Linked DNA regions of Homo sapiens. The protein of the gene in region 2 interacts with the protein of the main gene of each other region in a biochemical or structural test. Each region holds a gene or a part of one and is shown on either strand. Other genes may lie near its edges.

Region 1 (2,291 bases), on a different chromosome or scaffold from region 2:
TTCAACACTTTATCTTCCTTTTGGTTCAATAAATATCCAAAAATGTTTACAATTTATGTTGCACTGAACAGAGCTAATGATAAATATTGTCCCTGAAAACATGACTGTTATTTGCTGAAGTTCTGATAACCAATAGAAATGTGTTTAAATAATCTCAAATAGATGCCGTCAATGAGTTTTAAATATAGGCCAGGTGCGGTGGCTCACCCCTGTAATCCCAACACTTTGGGAGGCTGAGGTGGGCGGATCACGAGGTCAGGAGTTCCAGACCAGCCTGGCCAACATGGTGAAACCCCATCTCTACTAAAAATACAAAAATTAGCCAGGTGCGGTGGCGGTGCCTGTAATCCCAGCTATTCGGGAGGGTGAGGCAGGAGAATTGCTTGAACCCGGGAGGCAAGGGTTGCAGTGAGACGAGATCGCGCCACTGCACTCCAGCCTGGGTGACAGAGCAAGACTCCATCTCGGCAGGGGAAACAAATCACACGGAATATAGAAGCTATGTTTATACTAAATTAAAACTTTATTGAATAAAGAACACTCTCCAGAACACATGATCTGATGGACTAGGTCTACATTACATGCAATGAAGCTGAACATGACCGTAGTTTAACATGGAATGTCAAACAAATTAGTAATTTTCATTGTACAAAACTGTTTATGTAGCTGACATGCATGCAAGAAGAAAAGTGTCATACTCAGCATTTTCACCAATCTTCTGTGATGAGTTTTAAAAAAGGCATTTGGAGAAACTGGTAGATGTCTTCAACATATAGTTCAAATAAATTAGTTGTATGTGTACTACTGAATCCTCTTTCAACCTCTCTTGCATTCCAAATAAAATCTTAGTGCAAACATCAAAGTTGCTGGTCACTCCAAAAGACTGCTAAACTCATAATAGAATACAAGTTCTGAATTACTGTGTATTAAGTAGGAAAACCCAAGAATACCAGTTACTGCAAAATTCATTTAGGCACATTTAATAGTCCACTCTAAGCATTTTTTCTAAGTCTCTCACATTAATGACTAAAGCCTGTTTACAGTACTAAAATTCTATCATTCAAGCATCAATGATTACATTTCAGAAAAAGGAAATTCATTTCAGTAATAGCATTACTGCTATATCCTAAAAAAAGGAGAGAAAATAAAGAATCATAATTAACAAAACCAGTATCCATAATAGGATACACAGGGAAAAACATTTTAGGAGAAAAAAAAAGTGTGCTTTACTTGCCACAGCAGGAATTATATAATGTAAACACCATATTGGCCCACACCACAAAAATCCATGAGAAAGGTTCAAATTTGAACACCATATGTGCATTATTTTCAAATCTGTGTTTGTGAGTTTATACTGTATCTGCTTGTACCAATACATGACAAACAAAACAAACTCTTCGACACACATATAAGTGATTGTTAAATATTAAGCATGGCTTGATTCCCTGACTTTAGCTCAAAAAAAAAATGTTAAGTGACATCCCAACTGTCTTAAAAATGTTTACAGAAACCATTAAATGAATGTGAGTAGTAGCTGAGGAATGATGAAAAAGTGATGGTAATGATATTGTGCAAGTGGATGGAAAAAGAATATACGTATTTGCAAATGCATGGAAAATCTTATTCTGTGGGCCTTGTCTGAATTTTAAACTGATACCAAGAATAAAAAAATATAGTAGCACAAGTCCATTGACACCTGGAGGGTCAGGCCTAGAAAGCTTACCTTCAAAGTGCAAATTTTAACAATGGAATGTTTTAGCAGGGACTTAAGGACAATCCTCTGTCTTTTTCTTGTTGAAAAGACCTAAGATGTTCAGGAAGTATTTATTCCTGGCCAGAATTATTTCAGTTTCTTGGTAAAACAAAAATATTTAGCCACAATTACCACCCGCTCATTCACATACACAGAACCATTCTTAGGGGTGTTTGCGGGGAGAAAAAGCCCTTATCTATGTATCACCTAATGGAACTCTTATTTATAATCTAAGTTCTTTGAATCCACTACTTTAAATACCAACATGCACCTCTCTTATCCCCTCCCTCTCCACCCATCTACCCCATACACCCCCAGTGAACCTAGGTATTCTAATGTCTTTGTGTTTTCTAAGCCTCATGAATAAGGCTGTTGAGTACCACCTCCACCGGATCAAAATTAACACCTGGTGCACTTTCTACAGCACCTTTTTTCTTCTCCACAATTGAGTGGAATCTTGATGCTTTCAAGCCTGTATCTAGATCTCCAGGTCATCAGGCCGAGGTCTGCTGCTGGCACGACTGCTGGCTCTGCTTGA
Region 2 (3,855 bases):
GACTCACAATCTTAAAGCTATGACTGACTCATAGGTATGCAACTAAGTATCAGTTCTTAAAGACATCACAAGATGCCTGTAATCCCAACACTTTGGGAGGCCTAGGCAGGAGGATCGCTTGAGGCCAGAAATTCAAGATCAGCCTGGGCAACAGTGCGAGATTCTTTATCTACAAAAATAAAAAGAAAAGAAAAATTAGTCAGGCATGGTAGCACATGCCTGTTGTCCGAGCTACTCCAGAGGCTGAGGTGGGAGAATCGCTTGTGCCTGGGAGATCAAGGCTGCAGAGAGCCATGGTCACGCCACTGCACTTCAGCCTGGGTGACAGAGTGAAACCCTGTCTTGAAAATAAAATAAAATCACAAAATCAGATTGAGAGGCCTGGTGAATTTGCCCTTGAATGATAGTTATAGAATAAACTGATTTATATATACATAGTACTGTAAATATCCTCTGCTTATTAGATCTTTTAAGAAATGCTTTTGCTGGGCACGGTGGCTCACGCCTTTAATCCCAGCACTTTGGGAGGCAGAGGTGGGCGGATCACGAGGTCAGGAGTTTGAGACCAGCCTGGCCAACATGGTGAAACCTTGTCTCTATTAAAAATACAAAAAAAATTAGCTGGGCATGGTGGTGCACACCTGTGATCCCAGCTACTCAGGAGGCTGAGGCAGGAGAATCATCTGAGGAAGGAGAATTGCTTGAATCCAGGAGGCGGAGGTTGCAGTGAGCTGAGATTGCACCACTGCACTCCATACTGGGTGACAGAGTGAGACTCGCCTCAAAAAAAAGAAAAAAAAAAAAAGCTTTCATATCCCTGGTTAAAAATTATTTTGAGTCTACTAAGAAAAAGATACAGGGACGTGAAAAGCCAAATTATGAGTTACATTAACCAGAAAGCCAGATTATGAATTATATTAAAAAGTTTTCAAATTACTTTATTGAATAAATATGGATTTTGTAGAAACTGAAAAGTTTTGTATTTTACTTCAAATTTTAAAAATACAAATAAAAAATACGATATAGACAGATATATTTCTAATTAACCAAAGAAGAGAACAGAAGATGAAGAGGCATTCTACTTAGTTCACTAGAGTCTGATGTAAAATCTGTTGGCTTGGGTAAAAAGTGGTACTACACTAAGGAATCCAGTCTAGGGCATACCAAAACTTTCTAGTCCCATATGTTTCTGATAAAAAAAATAACCAGAGGCTGCCTTTTCCCAAGGGGGCCCTGTGATTCAGGCCAAAAATTCCATAGCTCTAAACTTCAACTGCCAAACTGCATACCAAACAAGAAATACTCTGAATTACTTTTTAACCAAAGTGATACAGATAATTAGAACCAGATGTCTTATTCAACACTACATATTAAATTGTACATTAATATATGTTCCTGTATTTTATTTACCTGCTGAGTGAGATGGAAAGATCTATAAAGAGGTCACAGTAGCATCTAAACTCACAGGTTAGGGATCAAAGCCACAGGAATGACAGAAGGCAATTTTTAAGGTTGATATTGGTAGAAAATGGTCTAATTTATAAAGGAGGGAGAGGAGGCTGCATATATTTAAAGTACCTAATGTGAAAACATGTACAAAGGATGTCAATTTCAGCACTTTTTCTTTTCTTTTTTTTTGAGACGAAGTCTCACTCTGTAGCCAGGCTAGAGTACAGTGGCGTGATCTTGGCTTACTGCAACCTCCGCCTCCCAGGTTCAAGCGATTCTCCTGCCTCAGCCTCCAGAGTAGCTGGGATTACAGGTACACGCCACTGCACCCAGCTCATTTTTTGTATTTTTAGTAGAGATGGCGTTTCACCATGTTGGCCAGGCTGGTCTTGAACTCCCGACCTCAGGTAATCCGCCCACCTCGGCCTCCCAAAGTGCTAATTACAGGCGTGAGCCACCGTACCCGGCCTCAGCACTGTTTATGATAGTAAAAGACTGGGAAGGGCCATAAGGAAGTGATTAAATAAATTGTGTTACACCCATACGGTGGAACAGTGTGGAGACGTATCACACTGGAATATCATGCAGTTGGATCTACTTGTGCTGCGGCGGAACTAGCTCCAGAATATCGTAAGCAAAGAAGCAAGGTGCAGGACAGTAAACACAGTATGGGAGGGAAGGAGGTTCATTTTTAATTAATTAAAGAAGAGGATAAATACTATTTTAAACAATACCTGGTGGTATCTTCTTAGCAGTCCCTTTTTTGCTTCTTGGACTTCTTTTTCCAGGAATTTTTTTGTCCTTTCCCAAGAAGGCCTGTTCATCTCTGGAGGCTTCACAAAGGGTGTTTTGCAAGTTCTCACCTGCAGCCACCTCGCAGCTCAATGTGCAGCTTTCATTATTATTGAGACTGTCCTGCTCAGACACTTGGGGCTTTCCCATCGCACTGTCACTGCTGGTCAGATGCTCATGCCCGTCCCCGTCAAGCTGATTTTCATTTTCATCTGATGCAGAAGGCAGACAGGTCACACTCCTTTCCACGCTGTCACCAGGATGACATCCATCTTGTGGTTCTATTTGCAGATAATATGTAGGAGTATCGCTGTCATCCATTAGAGCATCCTTTGGTGAACCATTTAAAGTTACATTAAAGACCTTCCATGTCTACAATGACAAAAAGAAAAAAGCTACTTCATTTTCTAACCTTTGCAGATTCTCAGTGATCTTTGATTTTCCCCTTCTCTTAGGTTGTTTCATTGTAAATAGGGAAGAGAAGGAAATGACTTAAGTTCATTCCCTTTCACCATATGCAACCCAACCCCAAACTCAGCTAGTTCTCACATGAATACTACAGGTGTCAAGCCTGTCTCCTCATGATGATCACCTGAGAGGCTGCCCAAATTCTATTCTAGACCATTACATCAGAATCTCTGAGGATGGAACCTAGGCACCACTATTTTTCAAGTTCTCTAGGTAAGTCTAATGTGCATCAGGTTGGGACCACTGCCTGAATGAAATGACTAGTTAAATAGGTTATGTGCTGAAATTAGTCTCTTATGTTAATCCCTGGACACTCAGCAGACAACTGAAAGCTAGTTGTATAAGTTCTTCTCTGGCTAAACAGCAGCAATATTTGGAAATGAAAATGTTTGAAGATTTTAAAAAAAAATAACCTAGAAAAAAGTATGTGAGGGGAAGTTTAGGTAGCATATATTTATACTATCGTTTTATTTTTTATTTCCTAAAAATAAGCCCTGGAAGGTACCTTAGAGTTGTCATCAAAATCCTTTTGAACACTTAAAAAAAAAAAAAAAAAGGCCATGGTTAACTCTAGGCTACTCTTAGTGTAGAATTGGAAGAAATGCTAAATCTGCTTGAAGGATACCACTAATATTTTTAAAATTTACAAAACAGACTGCAAGCCCTTTATCAGTCATCTTTTATTTCCTCTTATTATCTACAAGTGTATTACATTTTAAGAAAAATGATAGGTATGAAAGAAATAATCCAGTAATTCTGGAAAAAAACCTCAGTGAGAGGACTTCTAAAGATTCTTCAACTTAATGAGTAGAAATGCTTAATCTTTAGAAACATGTAAAGTACAGTCTCTAAAACCATGAAAAGTACAAGATAAAATATTCACCCTATACCATTAAGGAAGGAGACCACCACTTCTCCTGCTGCCCTCCTCTCTCCCACTTTTGCCTAGTTTATAAGACAGGCGAAAAGGGAGAAAGCAAAAAGTTGGAAAGAAACAGAAGTAAGATAAATAGCCAGACGACCCTGGCACCACCACCTGGCCCTGGTGGTTAAAAAAATAATAATAATATTAACCCCTGACCTAAACTACTTGTGTTATCTGTAAATTCCAGACATCGTATGAGGAAGCCCTGCGAAACTTTCTGT

What was found. Proteins that work in one complex are often made in the same cells at the same time.
Region 1: the proteins of CNST (region 2) and GJA1 form a complex in vitro, tested with the Homo sapiens proteins (one study listed by BioGRID).

Annotation. Positions count from the first base shown.
Region 1 is NC_000006.12:121,447,937-121,450,227, reverse strand, and holds the end of GJA1 (gap junction alpha-1 protein), read right to left. Parts: coding exon 2,232-2,291; 3' UTR 501-2,231; downstream 1-500. UniProt on the Homo sapiens protein: Gap junction protein that acts as a regulator of bladder capacity. A gap junction consists of a cluster of closely packed pairs of transmembrane channels, the connexons, through which materials of low MW diffuse from one cell to a neighboring cell.
Region 2 is NC_000001.11:246,590,270-246,594,124, reverse strand, and holds part of CNST (consortin), read right to left. Parts: intron 2,614-3,855; coding exon of another isoform or gene 2,563-2,613; coding exon 2,184-2,562; intron 1-2,183. UniProt on the Homo sapiens protein: Required for targeting of connexins to the plasma membrane.